Linked DNA regions of Homo sapiens: region 1 is linked to region 2. Evidence: fine-mapped expression QTL. A gene starts in region 2. The other region holds a variant in brackets. All regions are shown on one strand. Distances are between the middles of the regions.

Region 1 (5,189 bases), 22 kb after region 2:
TCCTGGGTTCAAGCAATTCTCCTGCCTCTGCCTCCTGAATAGTTGGGAATATAGGCGTGCGCCACCATGCCCAGCTAATTTTTTGCATTTTTAGGAGACGGAGTTTCACCATGTTGGCTGTGCTGGTCTCGCGCTCCTGACCTCAGGTGATCCACCCACCTCAGCCTCCCAAGTAGCTGAGATTACAGGCACCCGCCACCACGCCCGGCTAATTTTTGTATTTTTAGTAGAGATGATGTCTCACCATGTTGGCCGAGGTGGTCTCAAACTCCTGACTTCAAATGATCCACCCGCCTTGGCCTCCCAAAGTGTTGGGATTGCAGGCATGAGCCACTGCACCCGGCCTAGTTTTTTACTAGTTTCTTAATGCTTTTAGCTATGTTATAGAATAAATTGCATTCCCCTAAAAAATATGTTGAAGTCCTAAACCCCATACTTCAGAATTTGACCTTATTTGGAAATAGGGTCATTGCAGATTAGTTAAGATGAAATCATAGTTGAGTAGGGTAGGCCTCTAATCCAGTATGACTTACGTGTCCTCATAAAAAAAAAAGGATGCCTTGTGAACACAGACATGCACAGAAGGAAGACAGCATGCGGACACACAGGGAGAAGTGGCGCATGACTGGGGTGATGCTTCCATAAGCCAAGGAGTGTCAGGGACGGCCAGCAGACCCCAGAGCCTGGCCGAGGCAGGGGATGGCACTCCAAAGCCATTACAGACCACAAGGCCTACTGACACCTTCATTGTGGACTTCCAGCCTTCAGAACTTCGAGACCATACATTTCTATTGTTACATGTGTCCTAGGAAAAAACAGGCTGCTTCCTATAAATGTTGATATGTTGTATTTTCATTTTTATTCAGTTCAGAATATTTTCTATTTTCCCTTGTGACTTTAGAAGTGTGTCATTTAATTTCTAAATATTTAGGTATTTCCTGGATTTCTTTGTTTTGTTGATTTCTAATGTAATTCCTGTATGGTCAGAATTATACTTTGTATAGTTTCAGTGTGTTTAATTTGTTAGATTAAAAAAAAAATCCCGTATTATATTCTGTCCTGGGGAATGTTTCATCAGTGCTTGAAAATAATGTGCATTATGAATTTATTAGGTGGAATGTTCCCTATATGTCAGATTGAATTGGTTGATAGTATTAAGTCTTCCTTATTCTTTCTCATTTTCTTTCTAGTTCTATTAGTTATTGAGAGTAGAGTATGAGATCTACAGTACTGTCGAATTTTACATTTTCACTTTCAGTTCTGTTGGTTTTTGCCTCGTGTTTTGAGACTATGTTATCTTGCGTGTGTTTATAGTTGTTACATCTGCCTGGGTGTTTTGACACTTCTCTCATTATGAAATGTCCCTCTTTGTCTCTATAAATGTTTTTGTTTTAAAGTCTATTTTGTCTGATGTCAGTATAGCCACTTCAGTTTTTTTATGGTTTATTTTTGCATACTATATCTTTTTCTGGCCTTTTAATCTCTTTGTATCTTCAATCGAAGGGATGTCTCTTACAGTCCTTTCCATCTGAGATCGGATCTTGTAGATTCAGCAGTTGAATCATATATATGTATTTTTCTTACCTGATAGAAGAGATTTTATTTTTAAAGTGTCACCTTAGACTGCAAGGATGTCTGTTGTACCTCCCCATTAATCAGCCAGAGGAGGAGCTGTGATATCAGAATGCCCACTCAACCCACCAGACATTTGAGACCCACCCTTTGCTGGCCTTCTGTAACCTTATTTATTTAGAGACGGAGTCTCGCTCTTGTTGCCCAGGCTGGAGTGCAATGGCGCGATCTTGGCTCACCGTAACCTCTGCCTCCCGGGTTCGAGTGATTGTCCTGCCTCTGCCTCCCGAGTAGCTAGGATTACAGGCATGTGCCACTGTGCCCGGCTAAGTTTTATATTTTTAGTAGAGATGGGGTTTC[G/A]CTGTGTTGGCCAGGCTGTTCTTGAACTCCTGAACTCAGGTGATCCGCCTGCCTCGGCCTCCCAAAGTGCTGGGATTACGGGTGTGAGCCACCGTGCCTGGCCTGTAACCTTATTTTTTAAAGCTTTTAATTTTAATTTTTGTTTTGTTTTATTTTTGTGTGTTTTAGAGACCTGGTCTTGCTGTTACCCTGGCTGGAGTGCAGTGGCGTGATCATAGCTCACTGCAGCCTTGACCCTGGGCTCAAGCAGTCCTCCCACCTTGGCTTCCTGATCAGCTGGGACCACTGGCATCTGCCACTATGTCCAGCTAATTTTTAAATTTTTTGTAAAGATGGGGTCTTCCTATGTTGCTCAGGCTGGTTTTGAACTCCTGGCCTCAAGTGATCCTCCCATCTTGGTCTCCCAAAGTGCTAGGATTACAGGTGTGCACCCCTGTGCCTGGTCTGAAATTTTCTTTTTTTAATCAAGAGCAAGTAGATACATGTTTTCTCTGAGCCCAATATGCAGAGAAGGAAAAAATGCTAGAATTCTCTGCATTATAGGGGCCTGGCGCCCTTTAGCTTCCAACAGTGCAAAGGGGGCAGAAAGTTGTTCTTTTTTCCATAGAACATGGTGATGTTGATTCCATACAAGTTTGTTGAGATAGGAAGGGATAAAAATGAGTTTGAAACAGAAAGAGGTAGAGATTCTTTTCACATTTTATTCTCCTCAAGGTATTTCCCCCCCAGATAAGTTGAGATCCACGGTGTAGACAAAAGAGACCTCAAGAACTGGGTGAGCACAAGAGGGAAAAAGCAAGACTGCACCTTGCTCCCGGGAACTGGAGACAGCTTTAAAAAAGGAAGGTTCTAATCCATGTGTGTTCTATTAGTTATCTTCTCCTTATCCCGTTCCTCATCAGTGTCTTCCAGTTCCTCCTCCTCATCATCTTCGTCTTCTCCTTCTTTATCATCCATATTGGGAACCAAGGAGCACTGTGATGAATTTGGCCAAGTATGGTCTTTGCTGACCTCTCCTAACTCATCTGCACCTGCGTCAGAATGGCCAGTAAACCAGGTGAAGAACCTGTCTGGTTCCTCAGGATGCCTCTTCCTACTGGCTTTATTCTGCATTTGACTTGAAGAGTTTCCTTTCCAGATTTCCATTTGATTTCCGTGGACTTTGAAGATGGATCATGACTCTCATTCAGATGAAATTCTTTGAGAGAGCTTTATTTTTGAAGTAAGGATTTTCGTCAAAATAAAAACCTATTCTGTAACCTGATTTAATATCTTCAAATTCTGTCACTTCAGCACTGGTCAAACAATGCAGTGCCTCTTCATCCTCCTCCCAAGCAGTGCAGACGCTTGTGGATGGCTGACAAATGTTATTACCCAGAAATTGGGGATTTTGGGAATCAATTCTCATCTGCCCTGAAGAACGTGGTTGGCCGAATTTGTCTATGTTCGCTCTCCCAGTCCGCTTGCCGCTCACTTGCTAAGCCTGTTTCTGAAGCCTGTTTTGTGCTGTGCTTCCTCGTGGGCTTGGTTGCCGCTTGTTCTGTTCCTCTCTTCCTCTGGCCTCTGTCAGGGGCTGGCGCCATGTCTTCCTTTCAGGCAGGGGCAGAGACGGGTGTTTGGGGGTCATTCCGGGAGGAGAGTCTGGACCCAAGGGCCTCCTTGCTCATCAGGAAGAAGCTCATAGGACTAAGATCACATTTTTTTTTTTTTTGACATGGAGTCTCGCTCTGTCACCCAGGCTGGAGTACAGTGGCATGACCTTGGCTCATGGCAACCTCTGCCCCCATGCCCTCCAACTCCATGGTTCAAGCTGTTCTCCTGCCTCAGCCTCCTGAGTAGCTGGGACTACAGGCACCCACCACCATGCCTGGCTAATTTTTGTATTTTTAGTAGAGACGGAGTTTCGTCAAGTTGGCCAAGCTGGTCCTGAACTCCTGACCTCAGGTGATCCACCCGCCTCGGCCTCCCAAAGTGCTGGGATTACAGGTGTGAGCCACTGCGCCCGGCCCCAAATTTTTTAATCTATTCCCCCAGTCTCTACTTTTCATGTGGGACAGGTAATGCGTTTCATCTAATGTAATTACTGAAAGGTAGGGTTTATACTTGTCGATTTTGTATTTGCTTTCTGCGTCTTCTGTCTTTTTTGTTACTTTCTGCCTCAGTTAGTTTTTGTTCTTCATGGAGATGGAGTTTCACTATGTTGCCCAGGCTGGAGCGCAGTGAGTATTCATAGGCATGATCATAGTGCACCGTGGCCTTGAACTCCCGGGCTCACAGGATCCTCCCACCTCAGCCTCCTGAGTAGCTGGGACTGCAGGCGTACCACAACGCCTGACTCATTGCTTTCTTCTTTTGTGTTAGATATTTTCTAGTGTATACCATTTTAATTCCCTTGCTGTTTATTTGACTGTATTTTTTATTTGTTTTCTTGGTTGTCCTGGGGATTACAATTTAGTATATTAATTTTTGATAATGTAGTTTGTATTAATACTATATTACAATACTATATGAAATATTTATTTGGGCATAGCTTAATTTCTTTTGCCCTTCTTGTACTGTTATTGTCATACAAATTACATTACACTGTGTGCCCATCTACGCAGATTTATAGTTGCTGCTTTACGCAATTGTCTTTCAAATCATATAGGAGAAAAAACAAATTATAAATTAACAAATACATTTATACTGTCTTATGTAGCTGCTTTTATACTTTACCTGTGTAGCTGCTTTTACTGGCGCTCTTGATTGCATTCCCCTCCCCTCCCCTCTTGACAGGGTCTCGCTCTGTCACCCAGGTGGGAGTACAGTGGCACAATCATAGCACTGCAGCCTTGACCTCCTGGGCTAAAGAGATCCTCCTGCCTCAGCCTCCCGAGTAGTTGGGACTATGGGTGCGTGCCACTATTCCCTGCTGATTTTTAATTTTTTTTTTGTAGAGATGGGGTCTCACTGTGTTGCCCAGGCTGGTCTCCAACTCCTGGTCTTAGAAGATCCCTCCTACTTGAGTCTTCCAAGGTGTTGCGGTTGCAGGCATGAGCCACCGTGCCTGGCCTTGGTGCTCTCTATTCATGTGGGCTTGAGTTACTGTCTAGTGTCCTTTCATTTATCCTGAAGGACTCTTAGGTCTTTCAGTGATGAACTCTCTACTTTTGTTTATCTTGGAATGTTTTATTTTTCCTTTATGAAGGTAGTTTTGTGTATAAAGGTTTTTTTTTTTTTTTTTTTTTTAGACAGAGTCTCACCCTCTCGCCCAGGCT
Region 2 (5,189 bases):
CTACATAGTGGTTCCCATCCCTGGCTCCCAGATGGCTGTTGACAGCTTTCACCACTGCCCAGCCTAATGGTGGGACTTTTGAGGGACAGACTGGGAAATGGATTGTCACTTTTTGTCTCTGACCTGTCCCCTTCCTGTTGGAAATGTGGTCTTTAGCCAGGCAGTCCTGTACTTGGCTAAAATTTTACTAATTGTGGGACAGGCAGCATGAATATTGGAGAACAGCAGAAAGTGTACCACAGGTGGGGTCATCTGTGAAGCGCCTCCTGGAAGCAGTGCAGTATATGGTTGAAAGGAAGGCCTCCTGGGCTGAATCCCATCACTGCCTCTCACCACTCCCTTGCTTCAGTTCAGTCACTTATAAAATGTGGGTAAGAACAGTGCCTGCCTCTCAGGACTGACCTGAAGTCTGCAGTGTTAGCATGTCACGTGCTGAGAGCAGCATCTTGACATAAGTGCTGAGGGGCACACAAGGGTAGCAGCTGATGGAAAAATGGAGTGAAAAAGCTGCCTGCAGCTGCTTCCCACACCTTCACTTAGGGTGGATGTTTGCTTGGTGAAGGATTTTTCTTCACATTCTAACTCCCTTTATTCAGTCAACAATTTTTTTGTTGTTGTTGTTGAGACAGAGTCTTGCTCTGTTGCCCAGGCTGGAGTGCAGTGGCACAATCTCAGCTCATTGCAAGCTCTGCCTCCCGGGTTCATGCCATTCTCCTGCCTCAGCCTCCCGAGTAGCTGGGACTACAGGCGCCCAGCACCACTCCCGGCTATTTTTTGTATTTTTAGTAGAGATGGGGTTTCACCATGTTAGCCAGGCTGGTCTCCATCTCCTGACCTCATGATCTGCCCACCTCGGCCTCCCAAAGTGCTGGGATTACAGGCGTGAGCCACCGCACCCGGCCCAGTCAACAAATATTTTGTCTCCTGTACACCAGGTATTGTTCTAGGCACCATGGACTTACATTCTAGTAGGGAGACAATATTCCAAATCAGGATGTGGGAGAGTCACATGACACACACTGTGATGGAGCCAAGTAAGTCAACGAAGACAGGTATGGGGGGGCAGTATCATTTTAACTAGGGAGGAGAGGGAAGGCTTCCCTTAAGAGGTGATATTTCAACTCAAGGATGGTAAAGAGGGAAGCCACAAAGACACTCGAAATAAAGGTTTCAGGGAAGGGACAGACAGCAGGGGTGGCGGAGAGGTGGGTGCGGGGCAGGAGGGCCATGAAGGCGCTCGTGTCTCCTGCGAGGGCTCAGGGTGCTCGGCCTGTCATAAATGGACTTAGGCTTTGACAGAGCAGTTTAGCTGCCCTAAAGAAACCTGGGAAGGTTCCCTTGGCACTTGGGATTGTCCGTTTCCTTTTCTGTCTATGTGCGCTGTCTATGCTGGACTTGAGATAATTCTCCGGAGTCCGACTCACCAGGAGACTCGGGTGTCACCCAGATTGACCTTCAAGGCTCATTTCTTGTCAGTCCAGTACCCGTCCCCTCGGTTCACACGACCATCCAGAAACCTCAAATTCAGTCCATGCTTCTTGTTTTGGGTCTCGGGGCTGGGATAAGGCGGGCTGACCACCGCGGGGCATGTAGGTAGTTTCCGTGGTGCTGGGGGCGCTCTCCAGGGAAGGCTACTTGGTCTGCAGAAAAGGCCTTGACTTGTGCATACCTGGGCAGCGGGCCTATGAGTGGCAGCGAGAGCGGGGTAACCAGAGAGGGCACACCCCCCAACCGGAGCGCCCCCCAGGTTGGCATCTCCACAACTGTAGAACCTCCCCCATCAGGGCAACCCTCCCGATTGGGACACCGCCCCCAGCCAGACACATCCTCCTAGCAGAACACCCATGCTTAGCCGGAGCCGCTCCCCCGCCAGACACCTCCCCACCGGGAAACCCTCCCCAGTGGGACACCCCAGCCAGTCCAGGTATTCCCGCCGTTAGGGACACCCCCTCCAGCCGGAGCATACCCTCGGCAGGGGCATTCCTCCCAACCGAGGGAACCCCGCCGCAACGGGAACCTGCCTGAACCAGAGCACCCTCCCGCGCCGGGGACACCCCACAGGCGGCTCCCGCGCCAGGCCGCGGCCCAGGGAGTCAGCCTTCCGCGCAAGCCGGCGAAATCAAAGTGCGTCCGGGGTTAGAGGTCAGAGGTCGGAGCCGCGGGTCTTTCTCCTTCTTCGGCCAGCCCACCAAAACGTCAATTTAGAATGAGACATGTGTTGAAAATGGGACGGCTACTCCCCATCCACTACTACGACTCTGGCGGGCGGGTTCTCCAGCTCCAGGTCTCCTACCCCGCGGGCGCGCGTTCCGGTTCCGGCCGCCGCAGGCCCGGCGCCTGGGGCGCCGCACGCCTGGTTCCAGTGCGCAGGCGCCGCACCGGTCGAGCTCCAACGCGCAGGCGCGGGCGCAGGCGCAGGCGCAGACGTAGGCGATCGGCCCCGCCCCGACTCTGGGCCGCGAGGCGCGGGCGGGGCGATGGCGCGCGGGAGGGGCGGGGCCACGCTGCGGGCCCGGGCCATGGCCGCCGCCGATGCCGAGGTGAGCAGCGGGGCCGGCGGGGGGCGGCGCGGGGGCGGCGGGCAGCGGCGGAGGCGGCGCGGGGGCGAAGAACCGGGCGGGGCGGCGGCAGGCGGCCGGCGGGCGGGCGGGGCCCCGGGTCCCCCCGCCGCCGCCGCCGCCGCTGCCGCCGCCTCAGGCCGAGGCCGGGCCGAGGCCGCCGGGCGTCCGGCCCGCGCTCCCGCCGGGCGCGCTTTGTGCGCGGCGCGGGCCGGGCGGCGGCTGGGGGAGCGGGCGGGGGCGCAGGTGAGGGAGGCGACCGCGTACCTGTGCCCGCGCCCCCCACGGACCCCGTGCCGCCGCCGCCGCCCGCAAGCCGGATCTGCGGGGAGGGCCTCGGCCAGGGTGCCGGGGAGGTGCGGAGGACAAAAGGAAAAGTAGCGGGGCCGGCCAACTTTGGAGCGCCGGCCGAGGCGAGGCTGTCCCTCCTCTCGGAGCTCTTCCTTCGCTTCGTTGACCTTTCACTTTGTTCTGAGTAGGATGGCACCATCTTTAACGAAAAGTTGGCCAGTCCCGGCGTGTTTCTCCCCAGACAATGCTGCTCCAGCCCTGCTGGCTGTCAGAAGCAGGAAAGCACGCTCGGTGGGAAGCTTGCGGACTCAAGTTTATTTCCAAACCAGCAGCTTTAAAGGGCTCTCGATGTAAAAAGTTCACATTCTTTTGTTAATGGTCTCGGCCTTCCCCGTGCTCATTCTCAAGGATAGTTTGTTTCCTTGCTTAGGAAAGGAAGCAGCGTAGAGATTAAAGTCTTGCGAGTGGACCACTGGCGTCCCTCTGAAGGAAAAGCAAGCAGGAGGTGGTGTGTCCGTGGAGATGCAGAAATAGTGTGGTCCTAGGGCTGAGATAAGGGACCGGTTTGGAGAAAACTGTCAGCGTAGAAGTATTTCTTTGAAATTAACTGTCTAGTAACAGTTGAGACTTCTAAAGCTTAGAAAGTTAAGGTGTAGTAAGAAGCCGTACAGTATCCTGGTGCATAGACTTAACACTGTATTTTAACTCAGGTAATGTATGGCCTTTTTGTTTATTTTTTTCCTGCATTTTTGGGGGGTGTTGAAATAAGTAAACTGGGAAGGTGCAGGGGAATTCTTAAATTCAATGCAAGGAGTTTTTGCTGAGTATCTGCAGCATTCAAGGAATTAATATTAGTCACTGAGAACAAAAAGCGAAATTAGAAAATTTCAAGTCACTTCTAGGCTTGTAGGGGAGAAGACGTGTAGTGATGAATTCTATCATTTATGAAGTACCCACTGGATCCCACACACTGTGCAAGACCTTTAGATCAGGCGCCTCCCTCGGTTTTCTTCACCCTGTGCAGCAGGTGCTGTTATTTCCTTTTTTAAATTATTATTTATTATTATTATTTTTTGAGACAGGATCTCCCTTTGTCACTCAGGCTGGAATGCAGAGGCATGATCACTGCTCACTGCAGCTTCGACCACCCAGGCTCAAAGGAGTCTCCCACCTCGGGTGCTGCCACACCTGGCCAATTTTTTTGTATTTTTTTGGTAGAGACCGGGGTTTCACCATGTTGCCCAGGCTGGTCTTGAACTTTTGGACTCCAGCGATCTGCCTGCCTCCGCCTCCCTAAGTGCTAGGATTACAGACATGAGCCATTGTGCCCGTCCTGTTGTTTCCTGTTTAGCTGAGGAGGAAGGGTTAGATAACTTGGCCAGTCGGTTGTAGGACCAGCACTAGTACAGTGTTGGGCACGTAGTAGGTGTTTAATACATGACCGATGAGCAAATGGCTCCAGATGTCTCTGGTTCCATAGGCAGCCTTGAATAGGGCTTTACACACCTGATGAGAATGACAGCCTGTGTTGACTGAGCCCTGACTTGTGTCCAACCCTGCCATAGTGCCAGTGCCTTGCATGAATTCAATAATTTGAGCCTAGCAGCAACCTTAAGAGGTAGGTACTGTTACCTCCCCGTTTATAAATGAGAAGACAGGCGCAGTGAGGCCCAAGATTGAAGAGCTTGTGGCCAAGAAGATGGAGTTGCAGGTGGTTTGGCCATAGAGCTGATGCTTGCTAAATGTGTTATATCTGTGATGGTCATTTTAGGTTAATAAAAGCTCTGTTTTTAGATTGATAATTCTAAGGGTTTATCATCAAGGTGTATGAGAAGGTGAGGGAGCCCCTGTGTGTAGCGCAGCAACTCTGGCCTTCTGGACAGTAGGTAGGCATGTGATCACTGTTGTCACTAAACCTGGGAAATGATTCCTGGGTCAGGGTTCATTAATTGCCAAATGATTAAAGTAATAAAGCTGACACTGGAAACTTATCTAACTTCATTTCTTTTCCTTGATTTACAAAGATAGTCAATACATTTTCCTACCAAAAAGAACTGGCCAGCCGTGGTGGCTCATGCCTGTAATCCTAGCAGTTTAGGAAGCCGAGGTGGGCGGATCACTTGAGGTCAGGAGTTCGAGACCAGTCTGGCCAACATGGTTGAAACCCTGTCTCTACTGAAAATACAAAAATTATCTGGGCATAGTGGTGTGTGCCTGTAATTGCAGCCTGGGCAACGGAGTGAGAGACTGTCTCAGGAAAAAAAAAAGAAAAAAAACTACTGAGGTAGTTGAATATATCCTCCATTCCCCATTTGTGGATTAGTTAGTAAATGGGGCATC

The links. PIP is the estimated chance that this variant, and not a neighbour inherited with it, causes the effect. A credible set is the group of variants that fine-mapping cannot tell apart.
Region 1: its variant is the best candidate, but not a certain one, in a credible set for the expression of EHMT1 in whole blood (INTERVAL, PIP 0.56).

Annotation. Positions count from the first base shown.
Region 1 is chr9:137,638,200-137,643,388 of GRCh38, forward strand. The region is part of intron 1 of EHMT1 (euchromatic histone lysine methyltransferase 1); the gene reads left to right. It also overlaps the pseudogene SETP5. Among named protein-coding and RNA genes, the nearest start is that of EHMT1, 22 kb to the left of the region's middle. The variant G/A (reference allele first, on the strand shown) is at 1,933.
Region 2 is chr9:137,616,510-137,621,698 of GRCh38, forward strand. EHMT1 (euchromatic histone lysine methyltransferase 1) reads left to right here and starts at 2,496. Exons shown (of 27, transcript NM_024757.5): 1 at 2,496-2,540. The coding sequence starts at 2,520. ARRDC1-AS1 (ARRDC1 antisense RNA 1) reads right to left here and starts at 2,386. Exons shown (of 3, transcript NR_122035.1): 1 at 2,022-2,386; 2 at 1,425-1,682. RefSeq lists enhancers at 2,189-2,238, 2,904-3,622 and a silencer at 2,279-2,578.